Regions from separate parts of the Homo sapiens genome. Here region 2 is linked to region 1. The links come from fine-mapping of genetic effects on gene expression. A gene starts in region 1. The other region holds a variant in brackets. All regions are shown on one strand. Distances are from middle to middle. Region 1 holds the start of SH3BP5-AS1 (SH3BP5 antisense RNA 1). Region 2 overlaps CAPN7 (calpain 7).

Region 1 (5,116 bases):
ACAGTGGGACTTCTACAGGGCTGAGTTAGCTGACTGGTTTGAGCTCAAGTGACTTAGAATTGTCAATACTCACTTTTGATAATCTTTGTATTTCTATAGGAGACAGGGCAGAATTGTCAATACTCACTTTTGATAATCCTTGTATTTCTATAGGAGACAGGGCAGAAGGGGCAGAGAATAAAACAAGTGACAAAGCCAACAACAACCGGGGCCTCAGCAGTAGCAGTGGCAGTGGTGGCAGCAGTAAGAGCCAAAGCAGCACCTCCCCTGAGGGCCAGGCCTTGGAGAACCGGATGAAGCAGCTCTCCCTACAGTGCTCAAAGGGAAGAGATGGAATTATTGCTGACATAAAAATGGTGCAGATTGGCTGATTCATCCTGGGCCCTGGCCGATGTGCATATCAACATTTATACATGGAACTGGAGAACATTGTGCCAATAATCATTTAATATATGCCAAATCTTACACGTCTACTCTAAACTGCTCTAATGAAGTTTCAGTGACCTTGAGGGCTAAAGATTGTTCTTCTGGGTAAGAGCTCTTGGGCTGGTTTTTCAGAGCAGAGTTCTTGTTGTGGGTAGACTGTGACTAGGTTCACAGCCTTTGTGGAACATTCCGTATAACGGCATTGTGGAAGCAATAACTAGTTCCTATGAAAGAACCAGAGCTGGGAAGATGGCTGGGAAGCCAGGCCAAAGTGGGGGCAACAGCTTGCTTCTCTTTCTCTTCTCACCCTCAGTTTGTATGGGAAAATGGAGATGTCCTCTCCACTTTATCCCACGATATCTAAATGAAAAAGAAAGAAAACCCACACACAAAGCAAAAACTCAAGTATTAAGAGCACATATTTTTGACCCAGTGGAGGCTTAAAAAAAAAAAAATCCAAGAACACAATTCATTTTCACCACCTCTGGTGTTCAGAGGGGGCTTTTAAAAAAGCGTGTATGCTGGGATACCCATTAAAACCATTTTCTAGAAGGCTACCATGAGCTGCACTTTTTGGGGTGGGAAAGGTGAATGCCAGTGGGGATGCGGGGGGATGAGGGTAGGAGGGACTTATAGAAGGGGATTTGTGGCTGTGGGGGAGAAGGTTCTACAGCATAAGCCTTATCCTGCCAGCCAAGGGGATTTATTCTAAGAGAAGTGCATGTGAAGAATGGTTGCCACTGTTATTAGATTGACAAGATGTTAATTTCTCTGTAGGTTGTAACTTTAAAAATAAATGAAATTATTTAAGGGTTATGCTGCACTAGTATTCCTTAGAGGAAACAGTTCTTTAAAGTTAGGAAAGGGAGTAGGCAGGCATGTGTTGGCAAAGGCTGTTAATAGTAGTTAAGTGTTAAGACTGCTTTTCTTTAACGTTTTCATGGTAATGCATATTTAGAGCACTGTATTTTTGTCTTGTTAAGAAAATTTAGCATTTCTAAAAGAAAAAAGCAACCCTCTTTCAAACTGTTAATTCTGTCACAGCCTGTATATTTTAGTCATTTGTAAATCTCTTCATACAATAGTGACTTCTTTTTTGACTGATACAGTATCTTAATTACAAGGTTATTTTGTACTTGTCTTAATACACTAAGTGTAATAAAAACGGCTTGAGAAAAGTTTCTCCTTTCTGTGACTTCAAATAAGAACTCCCAGTATTGCCTAAATCTTCTAGGCAACCCTTTTTCCATAAGGAAGAGCATGGAGTGCTGTGGTCACCAGTAATCATTTTCAATTAATTAAGGTCATGAACAGTAATAATTTAAGCCTTGTTTACCAAGGTTTGAATTCTACTTTTGCTGTTGCTAAAGCTGTGGGCAATGAGGAGACACAGTGGCAGATAAAGACGAGGTGGTGACGCTGGAGGAGTGGGCCTCGGCTGCACACTGCAGTCTCGAAGCTTAAGTGTTGCTGTCAGTCAGTTCTCATCCCCAGAGAATTATTTAATTAATTAACTGGGGGGGGTACACTGGGGCATTAGACTTTTAAAAGCTCCCCGAGGGAATTCAAATGTGCATTCAGAGTTGAGAATCAGATGGATTCTTTCTTTTGTGGAAATGTTTTATAATATTGGACTCTTAATCCGCATTTCATTATTAAAGCATGCTGTGGAGAAAAAGTTCTTGGTTGGCCAATCATGAGGTTTAAGTTTCAGAAATAACCCTTTGCAGTATCAAACAAGTGTTTTACCTAGTAGTTAATAAATATTTCATCTAGGAAAGTTCATAGAAGTCCCTTGTGCTATTTAAGAACATTAAACAGCCGGCTGGGCCCAAGGGCTCATGCCTGTAATCCCAGCACTTTGGGAGGCCAAGGCTGGTGGATCACTTGAGCCCAGGAGTTCGAGACCAGCCTGGGCAACATAGTGAAACCCAGTCTTTACCAAAAATACAAAAATTGGCCAGTCTTGTAATTTGGGTCTCAAGCAAGAACACTTAACAGCATACCTGAATTTGACTAGTGACCTTCAGGGTTCATTCAGTTCTCATAAAATCTCCTTACACCCTTTTACCTGTAGTAAAGACACTGAGACTTGCTTGACTTACCATTAGCAAAAACTTCCCTGCAATTGAGGCAATTCTTTTTCCTCCTAGAAGAAACACCATCTGGAAAATAGCCCAAGCTAGGATAAAGTTTTTACAGCAGAGTCAAGTTATACAGTCTAATAACTAGAAATTTCTAGGTACTTCTCGCAGAGAATGAAAGTGGGAAGGAGTTTTCTAACACTGGGGCTTTCTTTCCCTTGTCTTTACAAAAGACAAAGCCTAGGCAGTCAGTCAGTAGCACTAGAGTATTCCTTATGGGCATTAAGAATTTCTCTTGTTTCCTGCCTCAATCCCCCTTTCCCATCAGCCTACCACTTGCTTGTCTCCTACACCAGAAAAGGATGCAGACCACCTTTTGACCAGGGCTCCCTTCTCACACTATCACCTAGTCAAATTTCTAGTTTTACGTAGTCTGCCCCTACTGCTGTCACTGTGGCCTCTTTATCTCCACCACATCTGACATTTAATTATACTCTTCTGGGAATTCTGTTCACTGGGCTTCTTAATCCTCCCCCAACCCTCGTTTTCTTGTATCTCCTGTTAGTCTATGTATTTTTTTCTAAATTAGAAATACTTTCTAAAAAACTTCCCCCAAATCAGTTCTTAACCATCTTTAGTTCACGTGACTCTTGACTTTTTGGGTGATCTCACTTACTATACCACGTTGATTCCAGATCTGGATTTTCTGGGCAATTTAATGTGTCAAAACTTACCTTTCACTGAAGCTATGAGCATCTGTCCATGTGCTGAATTAGAAACTTGAGTCATCCTCTCTAACAATTCAACTGGTCTGTCTGTTATTTAGAACCTCCAAAAGGCCTGGATTGTTTTTCCTCCCTCTACAATGGGTCTAGATCTTGTCCCTCCCTCGACTAGACGGCCGTGACTGTGGGTGCCATTAGACACACACAGCAGCTCAATCAGGGCTCAGGGAAGAAGGCTTGTGAACCCTGGGCAAAATCTTTTAATCTCTTAGGCTTATTTCCTCAATTGTAAGAAGTACAAATAATAGTATCTATACTTTATTCAGCTATTGGGAAGATTAAAAAGAAAAATATACACATTGGGTACATAGTAAACACTCAATGGTCAGTAACCTGTCTTTTGAAGCTTTACCTTCAAGGTCCAAGTTAAAGTATCAATTCTTCAAATACAATTTTTTATATTGGTCCAGCCAAAATTAATCTTTCCCTTATTCATACACTGGTGGCATGTTTTTAGAGCTCTATTATAGAAATCAGTGCCTTTAAGTTGTTCATATATAGGTCTCTTCTAATAAATTTGATGGCAGGGATTAGGTTTTTAGTTTGCATCCTGTACAAGATCTTTACCACAACAGGTTCAAATCATGTGTTCATAATATAGTTCTTATGTTCTGGATTTTTTCTTTTTAAAAAGTAACAGAAAACTTGTTAAATTTGTCCACCTAAAATTAATAGGCTAAAACTGAAAGCATGAAGTATTTACCAAAGTGAAATCTCATTAGTGTAATAATCTACCACTACTCTGTTAAAGAACAGATTTTTGTTGAAGTATATATTTTCATGCAAATAATCTGTTCTCATTTACATGAAACACGACAGATGAAATCTTTCAATAAATCTAACTTAAACTATGCAATATCCGTAAGTATAAACATTTTATTTCAATTTAAGGTAGTAGCAATACAAAATAAGTTTTGATAATTATAAAGTAGAGACAATGAAAAATCCCACCCTATTTTTAGAATTTTAAAATATTGAGCATCATTCTGTCCTGATGGGTTTTTATGTAAAGTGGGAATTTACATGACACCAGTATCTTGGCAATTCACTTTTTTTGAATGCTACATATCCCAATCACCATATATTAAATTCTCTATTTTCTTCAAAGTGCTATTGCCACAAGAGACTGAACGATACAGCAATTTAAAAAAAGACCACACAAACTAAATTGTAATGTCTTCAATATCTCAATTACTGTTTTTTAAAAATAAAAACTGCAGTAGTGAATTTCTTTAAGTTCTTGCTACATGATTGAATGGGAGATAACCTCAACAATTTTCATTCTTAGGCATGAGCATCTTCATGCTAAGGTAGTCTATACTTAAAAGCTTTATTCTTTCATAACACCTGGGCAACAAATATTTTAAAATCATAAATAATGCAAAATTAAAATCAGTTATGGTGGCACAATTCATTTGGTAACTAGTTGCCCAAGATGTATAGTAGAATCAAGCAGGTTTAACTTCCACATGCTCTGCAAAAAAGGGAAACAATGGAAATATTTCGGTATATTAATCTAGCCCACTATTCCACTCAAGGAATCTATATCCTTTCTTTTTCTCATCTGGTCTCAGTTCCTTTATCCTCTTAGCAAAGGCATCTCACAGTGATGACTGAGTCTAATTTTAATCATATGCACTTTTTATACAAAATGGCCCCTAAAATGCAAGCCAACTCTATATACACAAAACCATGTAAACGGTACCTCTAGGTGATTTAGGTAATTCTGACTATATACAGTTCTTACCAAACACCCTGACAAGCACCAGATTCCACTGTAACACGTTTTTAGAGATTTAATTCCATTCTGATTGTTCTGCT
Region 2 (5,000 bases), 31 kb after region 1:
AGTTTACATCTCTATTTGAATATTGTCAAGAAAATACCAGAATAACTGATTCATTTTCACAATTATAACAACAATGATAAATCGCTTTCGTACGAATTTTTGAGTATATCTCTAAATAGTTCCTTACAACTGGATTCCTGAAGTAAAATCATTAGTCAAAGAGGTATAAAAAATGTTAAAGTATTTGGAATATACAGCCAAATTGTTATATAACTTAGTAACTAACAAAATGATGATTTTTCTAGCAGGTAACCTTTATTATATAGTGCTTGCTATATAACAGCACCATTCTCAGGGTTTTACATTTTATTAACTCACAGTAACATTATGAGGTAGTTTCTATTATTATCCCCATTTTACAGACAAGAAACTGAGACAGATTTAACAACTTGCCCGGTGTTACACAAGGTTTGAGACCAGAAAGTCTGGCTCTAGAATCTTTCCCTGAACATTAATGCTATAAAGTTTCTCAGATATAAAAATTCCTTTGGTCCCAATCAGTTACTAGCATCACACAGCTACCTGAGTGAAAAAAATATGTTAACTGGCTTTGTGATACCTAACCCTTGGCAAAAGAACAGCAAAACACTAGAAAATAAAAAGCAGCCCTTTTGTTCTTTACAGAGCCTTCATATTCTATATAGTAAGCATCCAGCTTTTTTTTTCTAATAATAAATATAACATGCTCATTGGAGAAATTTTGAAAAATAAAAAAGTACTGAAAGAGGTTAAATCACAAAATTTTGTTACCTAGACATAACCACTGTAAATATTCGGGTATATTTCTCCACATCATTTTTTTTTTCTATGCATCTATAAATACATGAAAAGAAAAAGAAGGGTCAGGCACAGTGGCTCACATCTGTAATCCCAGCACTTCGGGAGGCTGAGGCAGATGGATCACTTGAAGTCAGGAGTGCAAGACCAGCCTGGCCAAAATGGTAAAATCTCGTCTCTACCAAAAATACAAAAATTAGCTGGGCGTGATGGTGCATGCCTGCGGTCCCAGCTATACAAGAGGCTGAGGTGGGAGAATCACCTGAGCCTGAGAAGTCAAGGCTGCAGTGAGTCATGATCACATCATTGCACTCCAGCCTAGGCAATGGGAGTGAGACCCTATCTCAAAAAAAAAGAAAAAAAAAAAAAATTTGGGACATCATAATTTTCTTTTTGATTTCTGTAATGGGAACATTTTTTTTCCTACAGTTTTAAATACTTATTTTGAGTAGCATAATATTTGACTGTATAGATGTACTATTATTTAATCATTCCCATATTGCCAGTTTGTTTCAATAATTTTTTGCTGCAACAGATGCTTTGATGAGTGTCCTTATTATGTACATCTTTGACTGTTGATTTCCTTACGATGACTACAAGCTCGGACTCCTGAACCAAACAATATTTTTAAAGCTCTTGACATAAGCTGCCATTGTCCTGGAAGGCTGTGCTAACTAATTCTCTCATAAATAGTCCTTGCTTGAATTGGTCTTCTTAGTAAACAATGACATCATTCCATTCCCCTTTTCCATTCAGTTTCTTTACTGTGTGTTAGAATTTCTGTTGTGATTCAATCACTGCTTGGACAAATATTTACGGAGTACTTACTTTACACCAGGTACTGTGCTAGACACTACAGAAATAATATTAGGCAAAAGGAGATCCTCATGTCCTCATGACTGGGCAAATAACAAAAGTGCTCTTGCTATGTTGCCCTATCCCTTTCCCACAGCCACCCCTCTATTCCAACAAATTTTTTTATTACAAATTTTAATTTCAAGGCTATTAAATTGAACTTCAGAGTACTGAAAAGTTAAAATATTGGAGTTAAAAATTGCAACAGTGCTTACTTACCAGAAAGGCATTGGATAGGCAAAACGTTCTCTCAGGTCAACATTCATGAAAGGAACATATTCTATACCATTTATTTTTGATGTTGTCCTATCAAACA[C/T]GAGAAAAAAACCTAAATGTTCAAGTTTACCTTAATTGCCAATCTTATTTCAACTCTTTAAAATTTAAATGACAAGGTATGATACTGTATTAAAATTAAACTGACAACCTCATGTTGTTGATATATCTTTGGACAATATTTTCATAAAATAATTGAAAATCAGAAAATAACTGAATCAATTCAAACCAATAAGAATATTCTTTAAAGGCTAACACCCACAAGAAGACAAGACTATTCAAGAGGTAATGAAAGTGTCCTTGACACCAAGACACAAAACCAATTCTATGCTAAGCCTAAAGGGAGAAATCAATTGCTTAAGTTATTTTGGAATTAAAAAAACACATTAACAATTCTGAAATACATGCTCTTCACGTTTTCTGGTTATGAGGACATGAAATGGGTAGTGGAAGAAGGAAGTGTCATAGATATCAGCTATGGTCTACTGACAAATTAAAGAAATAAGGTTTGTAGTAGCTTTGCATTCTCCTTGTTTTGTGTATATGCTTATTTATCTATATTAACTATTTCCTTCTTGTATCTGTTTCTCTCCCTTATTCTATTTATGAGATGTTGCAGAGTAACTTCAGAATTTAGTCTTTAGGTAACAATAGCCTGGAAATCTGAGGACTACTTAATATAGTCAGGAATAGATGAAATGATTGTTGGGACTATGTACAGCCTTATTTTGGAAAGATAATGAAAACTTTTCACTCGCATGAAGGATAGCTGCATTTTGTTAGGTGGAATATAGAGTTGTTCTGGTGTAGTACAGAATTTCAAACATGTGAAGGTAGCATATGGAAAAGTGTTGGACTGTTATTAGTCTTTTAGCTTCAAAACTACCCTTCTTTGTCCTGTATTGTGCTGTGTTGGTGCACATGCAATTTTTCCTAGACAAAGGGAGCCAGATTAGCAGGAGTACAATTACAATCTTCAGCAGGAAAGGAAAGAAAAATGCTCTCAGATGGCTGCTACCTAGGCAGAAGCCCTTTCAGCTCAATTTTAGAAAATAAAAAGATGAACACCTACATGACTTACACAGCTCTAAGCAGACTGAACTTTCTGCAGTGCTCAACTTTAAAAAAGCCACCCTGTCTGGCTCAGGGACTTATCCTAGCTACACTGGTTCAGAGGGCAATCAAGAATTTCCACATTATTGTGTTTCACATTTCATTTTTTTTTGGTACAGCTCCTTGTGGAACAGGGCTACTCCATAGGCAGTGTGCCCAGAGTAGCCGTGTTTTACATTTTTAATATCCTCTGAGACTGCTTTCAGACACGCTATAACCCCCGCTAGACAGGGGGTCGGCAAATGTTTTCTGTAAAGAGCCATATGGTATATAGCTTAGGCTTTGCAATGAGGTTTCTGTCATATATTCTTTTTTTTTTTTTTTGATGCATGTAAAACCTTTCAAAGAAAAACTTTACATATATATATACGTATACGTATACTATATACGTATATGTATACGTATGTATATACACGTGTATACACACATATTTTTTTTTTTGAGACGGGATCTCCCTCTGTTGCCCAAGCTGGAGAGCAGTGGCGTGATCTCGGCTTTGCAACCTCCACCTCCTGGGCTCAAGTGATCCTCCCAAGTAGCTGGGATTACAGTGCACATCATCATACCCAGCTATTTTTTGTATTTGTAGTAGAGATGGGGTTTTGGCATGTTGCCCAGGCTGGTCTCAAACTCCTGAGCTCAAGTGATCTGCCCCCCTCTGCCTCCCAAAATGCTGGGATTGCAGGGGTGAGCTGCCAGCACACCACCTACACTCCTATTTCAAAGTAACATTTTTTCTCCCATTAGGGCTCTGGTTACAAAGTTGCATAGATTAAGAGTGGTCTGCTACAGCTCATTTTGCTCCTTAACCTTTAGTGGCTCAGTTTCACAGAATGCTAGGATTTTCAGCAAAGTGTATTATGTCTAGCAAAAACGCTAATATTAAAATATACTGGAACTAAAGCCGGGCACAGTGGCTCATGCCTGTAATCCCAATACTTTGGGAGGCCGAGGTGGGCGAATCACCTGAGGTCAGGAGCTCGAGACCAGCCTGGCCAACATTATGAAACCCTGTCTCTACTAAAAAAAAAAAAAAAAAAAAAAAAAATTAGTCAGATGTGGTGGCACACACCTGTAGTCCCAGCTACTTGGGAGGCTGAGGCAGGAAAATCGCTTGAGCCCAGGAGGCAGAGGTTGCAGTGAGCCAAGATCACACCACTGCACTCCAGCCTGAACAACAGAGTGACACTCTGTCTCAAAAAATACAAATGAAAATAATAAAATAAAATAAAATATATCAGAACTAAAATTTTAACTATTTCAAGTTGTGACTACATGATGATATAATTACATAATAACAGCACAATACACTATAGGAGAAATCTGAATACAATTCAGCAAACCTAATGAAAATAAAATTCTGCATTCATGTTAACAAAATTCTTCATTACAATTAATTGTAAACTTATTTACCTGAGTACTTCTATTTCTTCTGCTGTGTATCTCTGTCCTTGTGCATCACATGACTGAGGACTTATAAATGACTGAGGTCTTTCAAGGAAGGGATTAGCGCCCAGTGGAAAATGTGCTCTCACTGGAGGTGGCTTTGGCTTAACACTTGTTGAACTGATTTTGCCAACTGGCTTGGTCAAAGGCTCACTCAGCGCTTCTGCTCTATAACAGAGAGGAACAAACAACTGTTCTAGTTTTTCTACTCACATTTAAGCTTTTCAGGAAACAAAATTTACTTGAAGAACCAGTCAAGCATCCCTAATGTAAAATTAGTATATAAAATTCTTACATACTAATCAACATTTCACTACTTCAGCTACTTCCAAAGATAAGCATCTTTTACAAACAATATTCTATTGACAACATTAATTAAGCACTTACATAATCAGACACCATACAAGGTAAGGTAAGTGGTATAAAAGAACGTATAAAACAATCCCTACCCTTAAGGTACTCATAGTTTTGTAGGGAAAGACAGACAACTGCATCAAAAATAACAGATACTAGGATGAAAGTATTACATGCAAATG

The links. PIP is the estimated chance that this variant, and not a neighbour inherited with it, causes the effect. A credible set is the group of variants that fine-mapping cannot tell apart.
Region 2: its variant is the best candidate, but not a certain one, in a credible set for the expression of SH3BP5-AS1 in blood mononuclear cells (TOPMed, PIP 0.57).

The regions. Positions count from the first base shown.
Region 1 is chr3:15,251,341-15,256,456 of GRCh38, reverse strand. SH3BP5-AS1 (SH3BP5 antisense RNA 1) reads right to left here and starts at 2,273. Exons shown (of 3, transcript NR_046084.1): 1 at 1-2,273. It overlaps CAPN7 (calpain 7), which reads right to left. Exons shown (of 21, transcript NM_014296.3): 21 at 3,541-5,116. SH3BP5 (SH3 domain binding protein 5) reads left to right here. Exons shown (of 9, transcript NM_004844.5): 9 at 154-2,104. The coding sequence ends at 371.
Region 2 is chr3:15,220,413-15,225,412 of GRCh38, reverse strand. It overlaps CAPN7 (calpain 7), which reads right to left. Exons shown (of 21, transcript NM_014296.3): 5 at 4,432-4,632; 6 at 1,852-1,938. Among named protein-coding and RNA genes, the nearest start is that of CAPN7, 17 kb to the right of the region's middle. The variant C/T (reference allele first, on the strand shown) is at 1,949.